Homo sapiens: one gene and its partners. The protein of the gene in region 1 purifies or fractionates together with the protein of each later gene. This does not show direct contact. Each region holds a gene or a part of one and is shown in the gene's direction. Other genes may lie near its edges.

The links.
Region 2: the proteins of TYMS (region 1) and WDR1 fractionate together in Homo sapiens (co-fractionation; one large-scale study listed by BioGRID). This does not show direct contact.
Region 3: the proteins of TYMS (region 1) and UNK fractionate together in Homo sapiens (co-fractionation; one large-scale study listed by BioGRID). This does not show direct contact.
Region 4: the proteins of TYMS (region 1) and ZFYVE19 fractionate together in Homo sapiens (co-fractionation; one large-scale study listed by BioGRID). This does not show direct contact.
Region 5: the proteins of TYMS (region 1) and TPMT fractionate together in Homo sapiens (co-fractionation; one large-scale study listed by BioGRID). This does not show direct contact.
Region 6: the proteins of TYMS (region 1) and VPS4B fractionate together in Homo sapiens (co-fractionation; one large-scale study listed by BioGRID). This does not show direct contact.

The regions. Positions count from the first base shown.
Region 1 is NC_000018.10:667,653-670,865, forward strand, and holds part of TYMS (thymidylate synthase), read left to right. Parts: exon of another isoform or gene 1-27; coding exon of another isoform or gene 28-100; intron 101-1,419; coding exon 1,420-1,521; intron 1,522-2,665; exon of another isoform or gene 2,666-3,039; coding exon 3,040-3,213. UniProt on the Homo sapiens protein: Catalyzes the reductive methylation of 2'-deoxyuridine 5'-monophosphate (dUMP) to thymidine 5'-monophosphate (dTMP), using the cosubstrate, 5,10- methylenetetrahydrofolate (CH2H4folate) as a 1-carbon donor and reductant and contributes to the de novo mitochondrial thymidylate biosynthesis pathway.
Region 2 is NC_000004.12:10,110,300-10,113,799, reverse strand, and holds part of WDR1 (WD repeat-containing protein 1), read left to right. Parts: intron 1-3,500.
Region 3 is NC_000017.11:75,815,806-75,819,305, forward strand, and holds part of UNK (RING finger protein unkempt homolog), read left to right. Parts: intron 1-964; coding exon 965-1,107; intron 1,108-1,520; coding exon 1,521-1,721; intron 1,722-2,297; coding exon 2,298-2,363; intron 2,364-2,836; coding exon 2,837-3,011; intron 3,012-3,500. UniProt on the Homo sapiens protein: Sequence-specific RNA-binding protein which plays an important role in the establishment and maintenance of the early morphology of cortical neurons during embryonic development.
Region 4 is NC_000015.10:40,810,089-40,812,836, forward strand, and holds part of ZFYVE19 (abscission/NoCut checkpoint regulator), read left to right. Parts: coding exon 1-128; intron 129-299; coding exon of another isoform or gene 300-382; exon of another isoform or gene 383-383; intron 384-560; coding exon 561-669; intron 670-2,610; coding exon 2,611-2,748. UniProt on the Homo sapiens protein: Key regulator of abscission step in cytokinesis: part of the cytokinesis checkpoint, a process required to delay abscission to prevent both premature resolution of intercellular chromosome bridges and accumulation of DNA damage.
Region 5 is NC_000006.12:18,145,078-18,148,577, reverse strand, and holds part of TPMT (thiopurine S-methyltransferase), read left to right. Parts: intron 1-662; coding exon 663-755; intron 756-3,500. UniProt on the Homo sapiens protein: Catalyzes the S-methylation of thiopurine drugs such as 6-mercaptopurine (also called mercaptopurine, 6-MP or its brand name Purinethol) and 6-thioguanine (also called tioguanine or 6-TG) using S-adenosyl-L-methionine as the methyl donor.
Region 6 is NC_000018.10:63,419,677-63,423,668, reverse strand, and holds the start of VPS4B (vacuolar protein sorting-associated protein 4B), read left to right. Parts: upstream 1-1,192; 5' UTR 1,193-1,409; coding exon 1,410-1,436; intron 1,437-3,992.

The DNA.
Region 1 (3,213 bases):
CTTAATGCTTCTGAATTGCACACAAAAATGGCAAGTTTAATATTATGTGTACTTTATCACAATGAAAAAAGCTGCTGCGTGGGCCAAGTTACTTGTGCAGGTAAGTGTTCTGCAGGTCGTTGCCTGCACCTCAGTTGTAGGGTGTCCGTAGGATGTGAGGCCAGTCCCCGGGCTTAATGATGCTTTAAATCCTGCCTAGTATTCAATTATTTCTTGTCGCTTAAAAGGCCTAATAAAATTATGGTTTTAGTTTACAGTGGTATGAATGCTTAGCTGTTGGATTTTAGTAGGAAAGTTTGTCCCTTTTTGTTTTTAATTTTGTTTTACAGATTCACAGGAATTTTTTTTTTTTTTTTTTTAATGCACAGAAAGTTTCCCTGGACACACTACCCAGTTTCCCCCAGTGATAATATCTTGGGTAACATCCTGTATACATTCACATTGGTGCATTCCTCAGAGTTGTCAGATTTTGCTAGTTTTACGTGCACTTGTGTATGTGTGTATTTGCAATTTTAGCACGTGTAGACTCTTGTAACCACTACAATCAAGTTACAGAACTACACTACCAAGGTTCATCTTTTTAAAATCTTTGATGTTACCTTTTTCGGAACAGTGACCATGAGAGGACTTTCCTCCCAAAATTTTGAGAACTACTGAACCAGAATATAGTCTGACACTAATAGGTAGAAATTTAACCAAAGGAGATTATGAAGCTCTGCACTTCAGTTAACAAATCACTTCTCAGCTTCCAGTTCCATCTCAGAAGGAAGGAAAGGGATTAAAATCCAGAGACCAGAAATGGGAGCAAAGTACAAGGTGGTGTAATCATTACAGAGGTTTCCTGATGTTTCCAAGTCAGTCGTGTGTTGAGCTGCTAAACTCTAAAGTAATTTTAGGTGGAAGTGTTGGAAACATGCTGCTGAGGTGATAGAAAGGAATCCATGGTCCTCTGTTAGTTGGAAAGTATATGGAATACTATATTCTACATAAGATACAACACTCTCTGTGAGACAAGGATAAAGTAGATTTTGTCAGTGAAATTGTGACAAGAATCGCTGATGGGTTTAGAGCCTAAGTTTGCGAGGAGCACTGGAAGAAATTAAGATTGTTGAGATTGGAAAGGGTTAGCTATGGGGGGAACAGGAGGAGGTGACTCCATGACAGACCAAATATTCAAAGGACTGTGTAGAAGAGGAAAAAGACTTTGTTAGGGCTCCAGAGGACAGAGCCAGGAGTCAGACAGGGCCTTGAACTCAACCCACCGAGATCTGCAAACTTTGCAGGATGCACCAGATGTCTTGTAGCCATGGGTCAAGGGGGGACCCTGGGTAAGAGACTGTAATAGATGACCTCTAAGGCCATCTCATGACATGTGTGATTAATGTATGTACCTGTCCTCTCTTTTTGACAATTCTACAGATTATTCAGGACAGGGAGTTGACCAACTGCAAAGAGTGATTGACACCATCAAAACCAACCCTGACGACAGAAGAATCATCATGTGCGCTTGGAATCCAAGAGGTTGAAAGAACCCCGTCGTCTTCATTTATACTAACCATACTCTTAGAGGGAAGCAATCTGGTTTTGTGCAGAGGCACCTGAGGGAGGCAGGACCCTGGGAACTTCCCCCAGCCACATGGTTGATTGTGTGACGTTGGGCAAGTCACATTTTGCTGCACTTTCACCTTCAGATCATGAGGTTGGGCCCAGAGGATTTTTTTTTTTTTTTTTTTTTTTTGAGACAGAGTTTTGCTCTGTTGCCCAGGCTGGAATGCAACGGCGTGATCTTGGCTCACTGTAACCTCTGCCTCCTGGGTTCGAGTGATTCTCCTGCCTCAGCCTCCCAAGTAGCTGGGATTACAGGCATGTGCCACCATGCCCGGCTAATTTTGTATTTTTAGTAGAGACGGGGTTTCACCATGTTGGTCAGGCTGGTCTTGAACTCCTGACCTCAGATGATCTGCCTGCCTCAGCCTCCCAACCAGATGATCTTAATTTGTGTATTTATACTCATTCTTACACCAAAAAGGGTTTTAAATTGCCTAGAAACTACATGTAAGATGTTAACATTTTAAATGGAAGCAGATGAAGTTCCAGCTCGCTGCCACCTCACTAACATTTTTAACAATTATATTGTAAAATTCAACTCTACCAGGGTGTAGAGCCAGGTGTGGTGGCTCACACCTGTAATTCCAACAACTCCAGAGGCCAAGGCGAGAGGATCATTTGAACCCAGGAATTTGAGGCTGTAGTGAGTCATGATCACGCCATTGCACTCCAGCCTGGGCAACAGAGTGAGACCCTGAATATTTAAAAACAACAACAACAACAAAACTCTATCAGGATATCATAAGTACTTAGAGTGAAATACTTGCATCTGTAATAGAGACTTATTTTTTTTTTTTTTTTGAGACACAGTCTCACCCTGTTGCCCAGGCTGGAGTGCAGTGGTGTGATCTCCGCTCACGGCAACCTCCATCTCCCAGGTTCAAGTGAGTTCCCATTCCTCAGCCCCAGAGCTGGGACCACAGGCGCGCGAATTTTTGTATTTTTAGCAGAGACGGGGTTTCACTATGTTGGCCAGGCTAGTCTCGAACTCAAGTTGGCCTCAAGTGATCTGCCCACCCTGGCGTCCCAGTGTTGGGATTTCAGGCATGAGCCACTGTGCCTGGCCATGTAATAGAGACTTTTAATATAGGAGGGTGTACCAGAAGCACCAGTTTCCTGTGGCAAACAGAATTATTCCTGCTGTATTTGTAATCTGGTGCCACGAGGTAGCCCAGATCCCTTCAGCTCTGATGGAAGAGCATTGCTTCAGCCGTAAATGGACACCTGCAGAAACCTTGCACCGATGGATAGTCTCCCTCAGCTCCGTGCCATCGCTGCAGAGGCTGTTATGGACATCACTGCAGCCCAGTGGCTCTCTCTCCTGGTCTCCACCATATGAGTTGGCTTCTGTTTCTCTCCTGTTTTACTTTGCCTTTAGCTGTGGTCTTTCAAACCACCATCCCTCCTTATCTTCCTCTGCTGGTTCCTCAGATCTTCCTCTGATGGCGCTGCCTCCATGCCATGCCCTCTGCCAGTTCTATGTGGTGAACAGTGAGCTGTCCTGCCAGCTGTACCAGAGATCGGGAGACATGGGCCTCGGTGTGCCTTTCAACATCGCCAGCTACGCCCTGCTCACGTACATGATTGCGCACATCACGGGCCTGA
Region 2 (3,500 bases), on another chromosome or scaffold:
TGCTTCGCTACTGCGCCACATTTTAATTTTAGTAAATCCTTCTGACTCCACATTCAAAGTATCTTCAGAATCTAACAGATTTCCCTGGCTTCCTCTGCCTCCACCCACGACTAAGCTATCTTCCCCCACCTGACTTATTGCCCCCAGACTCCCGAAAACCAAACAGGTCTCCTTGCTTTCACCCTTGTTGCCCTGGGGGTCTGTTCACAACACTCGCTGGAGTGGCTGAAACACAAGACAGGCCTCTAGTGGCTTCCCACCTCGGTGAAAGCCAGAGTCCTTACCGTGGCCTCGGCTCCAGCGTTCTTGCCTCCTTGCTGCTTCTTGAACATGCCACACATCTGTCTTGGTACCTGCTAGTTATTGCCTTTGCCTGGACATTTTCTCAGATAGCTGCAAGTCTTGCTCCCTGTCTTCTCTTTGGTTTTTCTTTTTTAATTTGAGGTGGAGGCTTACTGTCGCCCAAGCTGGAGTGCGGTGGCGTGATCTTGGGTCACTGCAACCTCCACCTGCCGGGTTCAGGCAAATCTCCTGCCTCAGCCTCCCGAGTAGTGGGGACTACAGGTACGTGCCAATTCACCTGGCTAATTTTTGTATTTTTTAGTAGGTAACGGGGTTTCGCCGTGTTGGCCAGGCTGATCTTGAACTCCCAACCTCAAGTGATCTGCTCGCTCGCCTTGGCCTCCCAAAGTCCTGGGATACAGGCGTGAGCCACCACACTAGGCCTTTCCCTTTGGTTTATACTTAGATGTAGTCACCTTAGTAGAGGGGTGTCCCCGGAATAGAATTTTCCATCCCCGGCCTTCTGTCTTTCTCATTGCTGACAATAAGTAGGAAGCAAGCTAACAAGCAGCAGGCTACGGCTGCCTACAAGTGTACATAGGTATCTGCCTGTCCCCCTAACTGGGCATCAGCTCCAGGCCAGCAGGGCTTTCCCCTCTCTTTCAGTCACTGCCGTGTCCTCGCCTAAGAGAGTGTCTGGCACACAGTAGGTGCTCAGTGAGTTACTCATTGATTAAAAAGCCTGGAAAACCAGGCTGTGTCGTGAAGATAATAGGCAGCCACTGAGGTCTTACTGCATGAGAACAAGGAAAGCTCAGCTCAGTGTAGATTGCCGGACCTAAATTTTGTGGAATCGCCTTTCATACCTAAGAGGCGAGCACCGTTGCCAGCTTTGCACTTGGAGCCCCCTCTGTCATTTATTTTGTTGACTTAAAAGCTGTTTTGTGAACCCAGCATAATGGCACTTCTTAAACTTGTAGAAAAAGGGTGTTTCTTACCTGTTTATTTCAACACATCTCGTTGCCTCACCTGGAGAGGCAACTCTCCTCTGTAGAGTGAAAGACTATAATGGTGGCCATGTAGAAACTAATATTCCAGAAGGAGAGAGCTCCAAGAAGGGGATTCCAGTGAACCATATGTACACTGTGTTTGAGAGACATTAGTTCCCCACGGAGAAGGGATGGATAGTCTGTGCTTCGGGGGTCTAAGGAAGGCTTCCTGCAGGTGCTGGTACCTCCTTAGGTCTGGGGTGGTTCCTTCTAAGTTTCCTTACCCTGCCTGCATCACCTCTGCCTCTTATGACCTCTGTGCAAAGACTGGGAAGGGTCACCCCCAATGGCTGTGAACGAACCTGTTTGTGATTCTAAACAGGGCACGGGACCATCCTACAATAAAAATTACCCAGCCTAAAATGCCAGTAGTGCCAGTAGTCCCTGTTTAGAAAAAGAAAAAAAAAAAGCAACTTTTGCCTCACAACAGAGGCCCTCTTGTGTGCTGCCAGGCAGCCAGCAGATTTGCTATGCAGGCAAGTTTGGGGCCTGGTTTTTAAAGTATCCAGTTCCTAGATTCCAGAACTAAAATACACATTTGGAAAAATGATGTCTATAAAATTGAGTTTCCGGGAGTGCAAGGTTTATAGCAATTTGACACTGCTGGGAACCCAGGCGCAGTATCAGTGGACTTTTCTCCTTGAACAGGGGGCAGACCAAGTGGGGGGTTGGGGAGGGTATTGGGCTCACTCTTGGTTTCCCTTGGTGTGAGCTGCCACCATTCACATGCAGAGGACTCACCTGTGTTTCCTGCGGGTTGGGGGTAATGGTGGCATGACAGAGGGCTTGAGGACTGACCTAGCTGCTTCTCCGGAATTGGACGCCTGCTGACTACCTGCGTGTATCCAGATGGCCATTGGCCTGTGGGGGTGCAGGATGGAGGCCCTGCCCACATGGAGCTCACTGTCCTGGGTGGGAGTGAAATAAACTCTAGGTGGCAGAAGGAAGTGGTGCGTTGGATTATCACCTGGGTGCAAACGAGCTGGCAGCAGCGCCTGCCAGGTGCAGAGCCAGGAACCTCTAGGCCTTCAGTCTGACCACCTGATGGCAGGGGAAGCAGAGGGTGGTGGGGGGCCTTCATCTCAGGAGAATCTGAGTGGCTGCAGGTGCCAGTCAGGACGCTGGGCTTCTGCAGATGGGACCACATCTGGGAGGACCGAAGGGCCGGGTGCTTATGGGCTGTTACTGTGGCACTGAGCGTGAGGGGAGTGGACAGGACCCAGGCTGAGAAGTGCTGGTGTGCAGTGGTGGCAGGTGGCTCACACAGCCCTACCATAGCGCAGCCCTGCTCTGAAGGCCACTGGAGCCATTCAGAGGTCTCACAGACAAGTAATCAGATCCAGCCTACGGTAAGGAGAAGTTCTGTATCTGAGATCTGAGGCAGGGAAGCCAATTAGGAAGCTGCTCAAAGATGAAGGCGGCGTCAGCGCAGGTTCCGTTGCGTGGTGCAGCCATCTCTGGCTCTCACGTTTCCCACACATGTTCACTAAGCCCCTGTCTTGGCAAGCCATACCCTAAGCCACAGAGGACCAGGATTAAAATCAGTGATTTTCAGGGAGGGGTAATTTCCCCCACCTCATTCCCCTGAGGGATATCTGGCAACGTTTGCAGACATTTTTGTGCCACTGGTATCTGAAGTCAGGGTTGTGGCCAAACATCCGACAAGGTACATGGCCGTCCTTCCACAAAGAACTGTCCAGCCCCAAATGCCAGGGGTACCAAGGTTGAAAACTCTGGTAAAGAACCTTCGAAGGCACCAGGTTAAGTGCTTCAAAAGAACAATGCCCTGGGTGCTCTGGGAATGTGAGGGAGGAGCCAGCTGTGCCACAGAGCGGGGACAGCTGCTGGAGAAGTGCCACATTTGAGTTGGGTCTTGAAGGATGAATAAGAGTTCTCCAGGAGGAGCGTTGAGACACACGGCAGAGGTGGGGAGAAACCAGGCAGGAAACAGCATGTGTACCTGGGTCCTCTCAGCCCCACTGTGGCCTCCTGTGTGTTGCTTTTGGTACATTTCTTGCCCTGTTGGAGGTAACGGGAGGGATACTGAAGCCATCTTTGAGGTAAGAGAAGAGGTTTAGCCTCATGCGTAAGACTACTGGAGAGATGGCCTTGCCCAAGAGTAGTTGGAGATGCTTCTTTGGAGAGTGACCTCCACCTTCTGCAAGGCCC
Region 3 (3,500 bases), on another chromosome or scaffold:
AACCCAGGAAGCAGAGGTTGCAGTGAGCCGAGATCATGCCGCCGCACTCCAGCCTGGGCAACAGGGCGAGACTCTGTCTTAAAAAAAAAAAAAAAAAAAAATTAAAAAAGAATTAAACATTGGAAAATATGTTGTTAAATTAATTTTAATAACATATTTGTATTTAGCCCAACATAAAAGGTTATTTCAATAATCAATATACAAAAATATCAAGACATTTCACCTTTTTTTGTACTAAGTCTATGAGATCTGATAGCATTTTAATGCCTACGGGATATTTCCATTCAGACCAGCCTGTTTCAGGGGCTCAGTAGCCACATGTGGCTTTCGGCTGCCTTGTGGGACAGTGTGGGTCTGGATCCTCAGCATGATACTGTAGGCCGCCACCAGTCTCAGAGACAGAGCTCCAGTTTGTACCTGTTAACACCTCTTTCCACCCCAAGATACTGCCCTGGGTCTCCTTAACCTCTTTCCAGGCTCAGGCCCTATCTCTGAGATGAGAATGGAAAATAAATCGAGGGCCCTGGGCGGGAGAAGCATATTCTTGATGCAGAGGTGGTCCCCGGCCATGGGCATTGGGACCGCCTGGCTGAGACGGCATAAGGAAGTGATTCAGGCTTTGGAGTTGTACAGATCAGCGTTCAAGACCCAGCTCCTCTGTGTTTTAGCTCTGTCACTTTGGTGGGTTTACCTTACCTCTCTGAGCCTCAGTTTTCTTATTTATAAAATGGAGACCATATTACTGGTATCTTCTGGTCACCATGAAGATTCACAATTACTGCAAAGTGCTGGCACAGTGCCTGGCACACAGTAAATGCACAGACATGGTGTTACTAGAGATGTCGTAGGAACCTTCCCTTTATGTGCAGGGGGATTTGTGGTCTCCTTTGGAAGGGACCCAGGAGCATTTTTGGAGGGACAGAGCTGGCTGGGGCCTGCTGACCCCTGCCCCTGACTCTTGCAGAGCCACCCCTGAGTGACGACCTGCAGCCTTCCTCAGCTGTGTCCAGCCCCACCCAGCCAGGTCCTGTCCTGTACATGCCATCTGCCGCCGGAGACTCGGTGCCTGTGAGCCCCTCCAGCCCGCATGCCCCTGACCTCAGTGCCGTACGTGTCCATCCTGGGGAGTGGGTGGGCACCATGCCTGACAGAGCCAATACTTGCCTCCTAGGCCCTTTCAGCCTGGGCTTGGGAGACCATCCTGGTATTTGTCCTCAGGCCAGGGGGATCTGTCTTTTCCATCTCAGCATTCTTCGTCAAAAGTCCAGGCCCGGGGGTGGGGTAGGGCAGTCCCCAGAGCCTGTGCTGATGAGCCTGTAGGACTGGTGGCAGGGACAAAGCCTGAGGTCACTCCCCTTTCCTTCGTGAGCTTCGGGCTCCCCGAGTGGTCACTGCTGCTCGTTGGCAGATGAAAGTGGAACTGAGCCCCTTGAAGACTCCCTCTGGAGAGGGTGGAGGATGGGCCACGCACCAGCCTGCGCTGTGCCCACGGGCCCACTCCCTCCCCTCCTTCTCCGCAGCTCCTCTGTAGAAACAGCAGCCTAGGCAGCCCGTCTAACCTCTGCGGCTCCCCACCGGGCTCCATCAGGAAGCCCCCAAACCTGGAGGGCATCGTCTTCCCTGGGGAGTCTGGCCTGGCCCCTGGCAGCTATAAGAAGGCTCCCGGCTTCGAGAGGGAAGACCAGGTGGGAGCCGAGTACCTGAAAAATTTCAAATGCCAGGTAAGGGATGAGGGAGGCAGCAGTGAGGTTAGCCTTCTCCTGCGTGGGGCAAGAGAATCTTGGAGGAGTGTCTTGGTCCAGCTACGGGGAGGATGACTGGGAGCTAGGACTCCACTGTCCTCGGCCTCTTCAGGACTGAACAGAGGGAGCAGTGTCAGCCCATTTGCAGCTGAAGACAGGAAGGCTGGGGAGGCTGCATAGCCTCCCCTGGGCTGCAGAGCTGGTTAGGAGAGGAGCCAGATCCCGCCTGGGTGCGGTCCTTCGGCTGCCCTGAACTGCCTTCATGGAAAGACAGGGCCTGGGGAAGCAGGACACAGGGGTCCCTAACTGGGCCTGGAGAGATACCTTCTGGGCTTACATGAGGCCTAGTGTCACCGGGAGGAGAAGGGCAGCTCCCTGCTTAGGGTAGGGGAAGGGAGTAGGGGGTGGGGAGGAAGAAGGGGGTGTGTGCATGCATGTGAAGAGGGGTTGCATGTCTGCCACCACCTGCCCCCTGGTACCTGCAGCCTCAGGGTCAGATGGACTCAGGGACCCCCCAGCACCACATTCATCCACTCCCTGAATTTTCTCTCTCAGGCCAAATTAAAACCCCACTCATTAGAGCCCAGGAGTCAAGAGCAGCCTCTGCTTCAGCCCAAACAGGTATAGAGCTCTCAGCCCCCTTCCTCCCCTCTGCTGTGGACAGGAGTGGCCCAGAACCCCAGGAGGCTTCGGGGAGTGGGAGGCACCACTTTTCCCAAAAGCTGAGGGCAGGACTAAAGTGGGGTCCCAGCCACAAATCCAGAGAGGGTAGGGGGTCAGGCCCTGGAGCCCCTCACCTCCTAGACTCAGTGGAGAAGGTGTTCCTGGAGCCTCTGCACTCTGCCAGGCCCTGTACTCGCTTCTCTCTTCCCTGCTACAGGACTGTAGGGGCGAATGGGCCTGGCAGCCTCCGCACCTCCAACTCCATGCTCTCAACAAGGTGTCGGGTGTGCCGGGGCCCATGTGGGCATGGGGGCACCCGGACTAGAGCTAGCACGGGCCATTTCCCTTGCCCCCAGCCCCTCTCCAGCCTCTCGTCCTGGCCTCCGTATGCAGGCCTACCATTGCTTCTCCTCTTCCCTCTCTCGTTGCAGGACATGCTGGGCATCCTCCCCGCAGGCAGCCCCCTGACCTCAAGCATCTCTTCTAGTATCACCTCCAGCCTGGCAGCTACCCCCCCTAGCCCAGTGGGCACCAGCAGCGTCCCCGGCATGAATGCAAACGCTCTGCCCTTCTACCCCACCAGCGACACGGTAGAGTCAGTCATAGGTAACTAGGCCATTTCTGTTTGAAAGCCCAGGACTGGGTCTGGGGTCAGAGACCCCCCAGTCTCTGAAGCGAGTCTCAAATCAGCACACCAGACCCCTTAGACATCTGTCTTCGGAAAATCAGGGGATGGGCACTCTGAGTCCTTTGAGCTAAAGGGGAAATGACCCCAAGGTGTAGGGCCAGGACTGACCCTTAGAGCTCCTTTGTGCAAATTAGAAAGAGGTGCCTTTTCCCCTTGGTGAGTACAGTCTCACCCCAAGACGTGTTGTTCAGTCCCCACTCATCTCACTGGTGTCCTTGTGTAGTGAATGGCCAGCACGACGTTCTCAGAATCCCTGGTGCTAGAAGTTGGTGCTCCTTTCTTTCAGTACTCATTTCTAGGTGCCCGCTTTGTGCCAGGTCCTGTGGCAGGCACTGAGGAGACAGATGACAACATGCTGCTCCTGCCCTCTAGAGGGAAACTTCCCACCCAGTGGACATTTGTCAAGC
Region 4 (2,748 bases), on another chromosome or scaffold:
CAGAGATAGAGGCACGGCTGGCTGCCCTAAAGGATGAACGTCAGGGTTCCATCCCTTCCACCCAGGAAATGGAGGCACGACTTGCAGCGTTGCAGGGCAGAGTTCTACCTTCTCAAACCCCCCAGCCGGTGAGTGTTATGGCTTAGGAGAGAAGCGGGGGTGCTAGCGGGAGGACCCAGCAGAAGCCCAGATACAGGTATTGGGGTGATACAAAAGTAATTGTGGTTTTTGTCATTACTTTTAATTGCAAAAACCTCAGTTACTTTTGCACCAACCTTTGTACTTTATGTACTTTGCAGGAGTTGGCAAAGCCTCCCACCCCTACCTCCTGATCCTCAGGCCTGCTACCAGACCCGGGGACCAGGGACAAACAGCACGATAGGGTAGGGCAGGAAAAAGTGGCCCCTCAGTCCTGTTGGGGACGGCCAGACCTACTTGATTATGTGGGCCCTGGATCCCTCTCCTTTCCCTGGGCTTTGAGAACTACTTAGCATCCATCCCTGACCTAGACTGCTTCTGGGCTACCCCTGCTCTCCACTGAGGTTTCCTCGTCTGTGCAGGCACATCACACACCGGACACCAGGACCCAAGCCCAGCAGACACAGGATCTGCTAACGCAGCTGGCAGCTGAGGTGGCTATCGATGAAAGCTGGAAAGGAGGAGGCCCAGGTAACCCCTCCACTTGGCTCCCTAGGAATCTGCCCTACCTCTTTCCCCAGACTGGAGAGGCTCTGCTGTCCACCCTCTGGGAGATGAATATAAATCGGAGAGTGATCAACGTTATAAGAGTTACCATTCATTGAGTGCTTACTCCAAAGGGAGCCAGTGTAAGCCTAGTGTTTAAGTGCACGGGCTTTAGAATCAGACAGTGATTCCCATTTCTACCACGTATTAGCTGTGTGATGCTGGACAAGTTACTTGACCTAAGTCTCACTTTCCTCATGTGTAAAATGAAGGTATGTATGGAAAAACCTACCTCACAGGGAAATCAGGAGGAGTAAACGAGATAATCCAATAAGTGCTTGGGAACATACCTGACTCATAGTGAGTACTCAGTGAATATTCTCTGCAATCATGATGTTGATAAGGAGGAAGAAGCTATTTAGTAAAACCAGCCACATCTCAATGCTCAGTAGCCATATGGGCTTCATGGCTACCATCTTGGACAGCACAGATATAGAACATGATATGGAATGTTTCCATCATCATAGAACATTCTGTTGGACAGTGCTGTTTGAAGGCTTCAGAGCAGTGGTTTTCAACAAAGGATGATTTTGCCCCCAGGCTACTTGTGGCAACATTTAGAGACTTTTTGGTTGTCACAACCCAGAGGATATTACTGGCACCTACAGGATAGAAGCCAGGGATGCTACTAAATCTACTATGTCACAGGACAGCACATCATGATGAAGAATTACCCGGTCCAAAGTGTCAAGAGAACTAAGATTGAGAAGTCCTGCTTTAGAGGCACAATCTCATTGAATATCCTCAATAATCTTATGAGGCCAGGTGTGGCTCACGCCTGTAATCCTAAGCACTTAAGGAGGCAGAGGCAGGAGGGAGGATAGCTTGAGCTGGGGAATTTAAGACCTGCCTGGGCAACATAGCAAGACTCTGTTTAAAAAAAAAATCTTATAAGGTACATACTATTCTTTTTTATAAATGAGGAAACAGGCCTGGTGAGCTTGAGGAACTTGACCAAGGTCACACAGCTATTAAGCTGCAGAGATGAGACTTAAACCTAAAGCTGTGATTTTAAACCTCTTGCTCTGAAACACTAAACTGAAGGTGACTGTGTCAGAGCCACACCTAATCTGGTAAAATTCTTCCTGCCCAGTGATATACAAGCTCTTAGCTTCCTTCATTGCCCTCTCTGTGCTAATCCCAGGAGATGCTAATTCCTGCCCTGAAAGGCAAAGAGATCGGCTGAACCTGGGCCTTATCATGTCTTGATCCTTTAGGGCAGTGATTCTCAAACCATAGGACGCCCACCCTTAGGGCAGAATGTTAAAATATCAGGTAGATGGGGATGGATGTGGTTGGAAAAGACATGGGTAAAATTATTAGTTTTTTACATTTGGAAAAATGGAGGAATACTAATTTTATTTGTGATAGAAACCATAGGCGCTAGTGCTGAGCAAAAAGCTGATGATCTGTGATTAGAAAGGGTTGAGAAAAGCTGGGCATGATGGCTCACGCCTGTAATCCCAGCACTTTGGGAGGCTGAGGCGGGTGGATCACGAGGTCAGGAGTTGGAGACCAGCCTGACCAACATGTTGAAACCCCGTCTCTACTAAAAATACAAAAATTAGCCGGGCATGGTGTCACGTGCCTGTAATCCCAGTTACTCAGGAGGCTGAGGCAGGAGAATCGCTTGAATCCAGGAGGCAGAGGTTGCAGTGAGCTGAGATTGCACCACTGCACTCCGGCCTGGGTGACAGAGCGAGACTCCATCTCAAAAAAAAAAAAAAAGAAAGAAAGAAAGAAAGAAAGAAAGAAAGAAAAAATTATTAAAGAAAAAGAAAAGAAAAGGTTGAGAAATGGGCTCATTGGCTTCTGAGGAGAGATACTGGGATGTCTCGGCCTTGCTGATGGCATTACCCCTTCCAGCTGCCTCTCTCCAGAATGATCTCAACCAGGGTGGCCCAGGGAGCACTAATTCCAAGAGGCAGGCCAACTGGTCCTTGGAGGAGGAGAAGAGCAGACTGCTGGCTGAGGCAGCACTTGAGTTGCGGGAGGAGAACACGA
Region 5 (3,500 bases), on another chromosome or scaffold:
TGGGAGAAAAGAAGTTGCGAGAAATTATAAAGTGAGTTAGGATGTTGTGCAATGTAGTAGTAGTCTTCATAGCAGCAATAAATCATGGGACCAGTGCTGAGTAAAGTGGTTGTTAGAGACATTCCTTGTTCTGGGCAGCCACGCCCATCTCCCCAGGAGATGACATCATCATCATCATCATCATCATACCAGAAACACTGGGTTATTTCTGTCATGTGGATGGCCTTAGAAGAGCCACATCTCCACAGAGGGAATTACAAGAAACTACAGGAGTTACACTTCTCAGGTTTACTTCCGAGGCTTGAGTACACGTTTAGAGAACGTACCATGAAATTAATGTTGAAAAATCCATGGCTCCAGAGGCTCCATCACCCCCAAAATAGTACATATTTAGAGAATTAATAAAGAATTTTCAAAACATCCCCAAGAAAAAAAAATTATTTTTAATTACTAATCAGGAAAGCCCTGGGTGTAAGTCAGATTTACCACTGACTGGGTGTGTGTCTGAGCAAGTTACCTGTTTCTTCATATGTAAGCTGGAGATTATAATAATTAATAGTAACTGCTTATTAAGGTTGTTGGGAATATTAAGTGAGATAATGAATGAAAAGTGTTCACCTACCATACAATTGTCCTAAAACCTTTTTTTTTTTCCTCTTCAGGCTATTAAAGAAGCATTTAGATACTTTCCTTAAAGGCAAGAGTGGACTGAGGGTATTTTTTCCTCTTTGCGGAAAAGCGGTTGAGATGAAATGGTATGAGCAGATAAACATTAACAGAATTATCTTGCCTTAATGATGAATTCTTTGGGTGATTTAACAGGATGTGAGTTTTAAAACTCCATTTTCAGGAAATACACAGAAATTCCTTATTTTTCTATTAGTGATGGGTATATAATTGGAAATAATATTCTCAAACAGTAAGAAACAACAGAAACAGGTATGAAGTCTTTCTGGATTGAGTTTTGAAATTAAAAAATCAGTTTGGAGCCAATGGGGGGAGAAAAAACAGCCTTCCCTTTTACATTTCCTGGATCCTTGTATGTGGTTCAGTTTTTGTAGGTGGTTTAGGAATTTAGCTAAGTTAATTTTTAGATATTTGAAATGGTGGTGGACAGAGAAATTCAAAATGAATTACAGCTTTTTGGCAGGACAATGTTCATAGTCCACAGTTCAGCTCAACCTTCCCCTCCCACCAGGGAACACAGGAGTTTCTGTTATCGTGAATCATTGTTATAAAACCAGTGATTAAGAAAGTATTTCTTGTGAGTAATTCTCTACAAAGAGAATTCACTTTAACAAGCCACTTTTACTATGAGTTACCCTAAAGTCACCTCGACATCATTCTCTATACTGAACTCTCTTGTAATGATAATATACAGATACAATCATACCTGCCAAGATATGCATTTATTTATAAGCTTGAATGTTGAGAACTTTGACCACTGAGCAGGAAAGAAAAAAGAATGTATGAAAAGGTTAGTAAATGCGCCAGGTGTGGTGGCCTCCGCCTGTAATCCCAGCACTTTGGGAGGCCAAGACAGAAGGATCTCTTGAGCCCAGGAATTTGAGACCAGTCTGGACAACATAGACCCTGCCTCAAAAAATAAATTTAAAATAAAATATTAATAAATGTAAAATATAATAACCTAAAAAATGGTCTATTCTGAATATAAATATCGGTGACTAACGCAGAGTATGCATGCATTTTTTGGGAGTTGATTTTCAAGTAGAGATGATAGAATTTTTGCAGCCAGCAACCAATCAACTGTAGCTGAGAGCCTTTGTTAGAGGGCTGCTATGACTTTAAGATTCAAGTGTGGTCATGAAATTGAGAATATTTAAACTATATTATGACATATATTTTAACCAATTCATTGAGCCAGAAGAGATAGTTACTTTCAAAATTACCCTCAAAAAAAATTAACTCTATAAACAGATTGTCATGTGATGTCACCATAAATGGTAACAATGTAGTACAAACAGGTTCTGAGGCAACATTAGGAAAATGGTATGAAATAGCCAATTAAATGTGATTGTTGAATATTTGGGGTCTAAAGCCATTTGTAATAAAGACATTACAAAAAATATCAGAACTGGCCAGGTGCGGTGGCTCACACCTTTAATTAGGTGAGCGGATCACTTGAGGTCAGGAGTTCGAGACCAGCCTGGCCAACATGGTGAAAACCCATCTCTACTAAAAATACAAAAATTAGCCAGGCATGGCAGCGTACGCTTGTAATCCCAACTACCTGAGAAGCTGAAGCAGGAGAATTGCTTGAATCCAGGAGGCGGAGGTTGCAATGAGCCCATGCACTCCAGCCTAGGTGACAGAGTGAGACTCTGTCTCCAAAAAATATATATATATGTATATATACGTAAATACAGTTATTTTTATGTATATATATATATGAACTGAGCTACTGTAATTACATGTAAGAAGTTAAGAAGTTATGATAGTAGATGATTTTTCATTTATGTAACTGATCTATGTATTGAGGTCTATACAGACATGAGATGTGAATAGAAAAACTGACCATGAGCTAAGGCCAAAAAGCATTAAAACAAAATGTTTAAGATATTTAGGTTTAGGTTTTTGGTTTTTTGAGACAGTCCCACTCTGTCACCCAGGGTGGAGTGCAGTGGCATGATCATAGCTCACTGCAACCTTGAACTCCTGGGCTCAAGAGATCCTCCCTCCCAACATGCTGGGATAACAGGCATAAGCCACCACACTTGGTCTTATTTTGTTTTTATTACAGGTTGTAGTAGGCTATGCTTCATTTTTCCATCTGTTGAATGGGAAATAAAAACACATACAGCCAATTTGAATAATGTTTTTGTTTACATTTTATAACTTAAAAAATGTAGGGAGAATTTTTAAACTCCCTGTATGTTTACAGATATCCTAAGAAATACGAAAGATGAAAGACAAGTTATATGTTTCATTTTACAACTAAACAGTTCATGCTCTGCCCACATTGAAAGTACGTACTCTTTTGTAGATAAAAGGTACAGTCAGTCCTGCTATACTTGTTTCAAAACTGAATTCTAACTCAATTGATATATTAGGGAAAAATTTGAGCATGAAATAAATTTCACATTTGCTTGTGTGTGATTTCATCTATAAGAAGCCTTAGGTAAAAGCAGAAAACTGCACCCAGTTGAACTAAACCAGGTATGAATAGATGGAATGCACCAACATCCCCCAGCTACCTTAGTGAGCATTAGGTCTTTTTCACCGTAAAGTGCCATATTGTAGTATTTATCTATTTCTCAACCATTTAACATGTATAAAACTGTTATTATTAGGTTCCTGTTTTTGTTTTTTAATGTGGCACTGACCAAGTTTTTAAATGCTGTGCCCTCACTTTCCCCACCAGCCTGGGGATTTTTAGTGCGTGATTTAGCATAGTGCAGTGATTTTAGGAAGGCACTTGTTACATTATAGCAGAACTATGTTTTTATTTCACTTGACATAAAATCATAACTGTGCCTAGA
Region 6 (3,992 bases), about 63 Mb from region 1:
TGGGGTGGGTCTAGAGATCCAGATTTGAAGCAATTTCTAGTCTATTGATAGCTGAAGCTCAAGAAGAGAGTTAGATGAGCAGAGGTGAAGAGAGAAGAGGACATCAGACTCTTGAGTAAATTCAGCTTAAGCTCAGGGAGGAGTAAGAAAGGGAGACAGTGAAGGAAGCAGATAAGGAATATTGGGAAGCTGGACAAACAAGAACTGGGTAGTTGACAATACCAATGAAGAGGGAAGAGGAGAGGACTTTAATTCTTTCGGAGATGCCAGATGAGAAAAAATTAAGAAATGAGTGAGAAAAAAATGATGGAGTGATTAAACATCTATGTTGCTTTCCTTTGAGAATGTTAACTATGAAAAGAAGAAAAGGGTGGTGGTGGCTGCAAACCATAGGAAGGCTGAGAAAGGGTTTTACTTTGGTTCTGCCTCTAATCCCTGACGCATTCAACCTCCTCAAGCCATTTGCTTGTAAACATAACTGGCATAAATAATATCTGATATGCCCATTTTACAGGACAAGTGCTTCCCTCTCAGACCACATACTCGAGGACAGCGGCCGTCCACGCCTTATTTACATTCATCTTCCCAACACAACAGTCATTTGGAAGATGCCGAGTGGCGTGGGAAGAACAAGCGGGAACGAGCGCCGACCCGCCCGCGGCCTGACTGCTAGCGCACCGCTGTGCGGCCGCCTCACCGCGCACTCCCTCCTGAATTATTCACCACCGAGACGAGGACGGTGATCGCCCCCATTCCACAGAGGACACGGAGTGAAGGCGCAGTCACAGGCCCAAAGCCCCCAGTCGGCGGGTCTTGGAAATGGACGACTTTTTCACTCAAAAGCTACGAGGCAACAAAGCATGTGGATGAGGAGGGAAGGGAGCCGGGGCCAATAATTCATCTCAAAGTAAAAGACGTCCCCGGGGGTGGGGAACAAACAAACAACAAAACCCGGCTCTGTGCTTCCGCGCTTGCGCTCTCCTAGGTCTGCCAGGCTGCCGCCCGCGCCTAGGCCAGAGTCTCAGTGCGCCTGCGCCGAGCCCGACTTCCGCCAGGGCTCGATTGGCTTCCAGGCTACTTCTCCCGGCCCAGGGAGGGCCTGCGCTGTGGCTAGAGAAGGGAGTCTGGTGACTGGGTGCGCGTGCTGATGACGAAATCGGAAGTGCCCGGAGCAGAGGCGGGACCAGAACCTAGAGGGCCTCGGGATTGCGGAAGTTTGGTGGGGAGGGTCGGAGCTCTGGTGGAGAGAGTGTTGTCTAAAACAAGTTCCGGAAGGGAGGCTGCCCTTCGCGGTCCGAGAACCACCGGCCTCCCCAGTTTGAGGGCTGTTACCCCGTGCGCGCTTCGACGTTGCTGCTGTTGGCTCTCCTCGCCCCTCGTTCCCTTGGGAACCGCCTGGGAACTCCGCCATGTCATCCACTTCGCCCAACCTCCAGGTATCATTGCTCATCTCCCGTCCCCCTAGGGAGCTGGGATCGAGGGGAGGCGCGAGAAGCGGGTGGGGGGCGGGGAGAAGGGAGGAAGCGGCCGCGCCTGTGGTCGAGGCGCAGGAGGGCGGGTCCGGGGACCTGCAGCAGGTGGGAGAGGGGCCCGTTTTCCAACGGAAAGGTCGTTTCTGGCCCGCTCTTGGGGTCTCCCGAGCTACTGGCTTTGTGAGACTCTTCACTTTTGTTGACACTTCCCGCTTCCAAACCAGCCAAGATCTGGGCAGGTTTCTCCAATCAGGGTTAACGGAGAAAGAAAGAACGTAATTTTTGCAAAGCCCTATTCTGGACCAGTTGAAGATAGGGTGGTCATAGTTCGGTCTTAGTTTCTCAAGCTGACAGCAGACCCCTTCATTCTGAGCTGTCAGGTGAGTAGAGATATGGGAACAGACCAAGAATCTGAGATTACAGCCAGCCTGCATGCAATCTCCGTGAAGTCATTGAATTTATGTGCACACTCCTGTGGCTCCCAGATGGTAGTGTGTAAGATCGAGGAGTATTCTTAAACCTCTGTGTGGCTCCACTTCCCCTCCTCTACCGCAATGAGCACAGTGTTTTGTACACAAATCATGGAATCTTAAGATTTTAGGCTTAATCGTTAGTCCTCTGTGGAATGGAATTCGTTCAGAAAAGAAATTTCTTAATGTAATGGTGTCTCCCATCCCCAGAATGGATCTAGGGCTTCAGTGGCGTTTAGAATGTAATGTGGCTTAATGTAGAGGACTCCCAGTCCAGTAAGTCAATAAGGCACAAAAGAGTAGCCTAAAATACTTGTATTGAGTCCCCGTCGTGGACTTCCGGTAGTTTGTTGAACAAGCAGTTATTGGAGTGCCTGACAGAGGCATCAAAGGTAATGGAAGAACTCCTTAACCCATGATAATTGATTCTGAAGAAAGACCACTCAAAGTAGACCCACTTAAACAGAGATTAAAATTTCACACACACATACACAAAAAGAGTGGGAAAGGAGGCTTGCTTGGGACTTTCATCTTGAAAATCGACCTAGAAGATTATTAAAATAATTGTTATCTTTCACAAAATATTATAATTGTATAATTGCAACAATGACTCATTTTGTGGAATAAGTCAAGTGTTGATTTGTCTGTGTTTTTTTCCTTTTCTTTTCTTTCTTTTTTTTTTTTTTTTTGAGACGGAGTCTTGCACGGTCGCCCAGGCTTGAGTGCAGTGGCGTGATTTCAGCTCACTACAACCTCCACCTCCCAGGTTCAAGCGATTCTCTTGCCTCAGCCTCCTGAGTACCTGGGACTACAGGCACCCACCACCACGCCCAGCTAATTTTTGTATTTTTAGTAGTAGAGATGAGGTTTCACCATGTTGGCCCAGGCTGGCCTCTTGACCTCAGGTGATCCGCCTACCTCAGCCTCCCAAAGTGCTGGGATTACAGGCGTGAGTCACCGTGCCCGGATGACTATCTTTTTCACCAAGGTTGTATTAAACTAAGATTCAGCAATCTTCACTTGAGTTTTTTGTAGCTTTTTGTAGTCCTATTTGGAAAGGTTCTTTTTGGTAAACGTATTTGGAAAAAGCGTTGGTCATTTGGTAAAAGTATTTTTCCCTTGAGTATTAAAGGTGACTCTTCTGAAGTGCCCATCTTGTCATCGTTGGCTTTTTAACAATTTTTATTCCACCAGCTTTTCATTTGTCAGAGACTTTGCATGTGATTTCGATACTCTACAACATAATCTTCATCATTTGCAGGTTTTTGTTGTTGTTGTTTTGAGACAGTCTTGCTCTGTTGCCCAGACTGGAGTGCAGTGGCGTGATCTTGGCGCACTGCAACCTCCACCTCCCAGGTTCAAGTGATTCTTGTGCCTCAGCCTCCCGAGTAGCTGGGATTACAGGTGCCTGCCACCACGCCTGGCTAATTTTTTCTATTTTTAGTAGAGACAGGGTTTCACCATGTTGGCCACGCTGGTCTTGAACTCCTGACCTCAAGTGATCCGCCCGCCTTAGCCTCCCAAAGTGCTGGGTTACAGGTGTGAGCCACCGTGCCCGGCCCCAGAATGCATCATACTTGAATTGGACTGTTGGCTGTTCTTCAGTGAATCAGCCAGAGACTGACCAACATGAAAGGCATAATTGTTACTCTTAAGCAGGAAGGATCTTGAATTGTAATTTTGTTAGTGGTAGGTTCACATGTGTGCTTTCTCATTCAACCTTTTCAACCTTCTAACCTAGGAAATTTGGATTAATATTCATGTAGTGATTAACTTCCTGCTGAACAAGGCAAAAATCTCTGTGGCCAGATGCTTATAATCTAATGAGGGAATGCAGATAACTAAAAATCAAAATTATATAATGTAATAAAGCTGCACAGTATTCTCCACTTCCCTGTGGTTTTACTTTCCACAGTTTCAATAACCCGAAGTTAACCTGGGTCCAAAAATTTTAAATGAAATATTCTAGAATAAATAGTTCATAATTTTGAAACACTATGTCACAATGCCTGTGTCATTCACTTCAGTTCATATCATGACGTAGGCATTT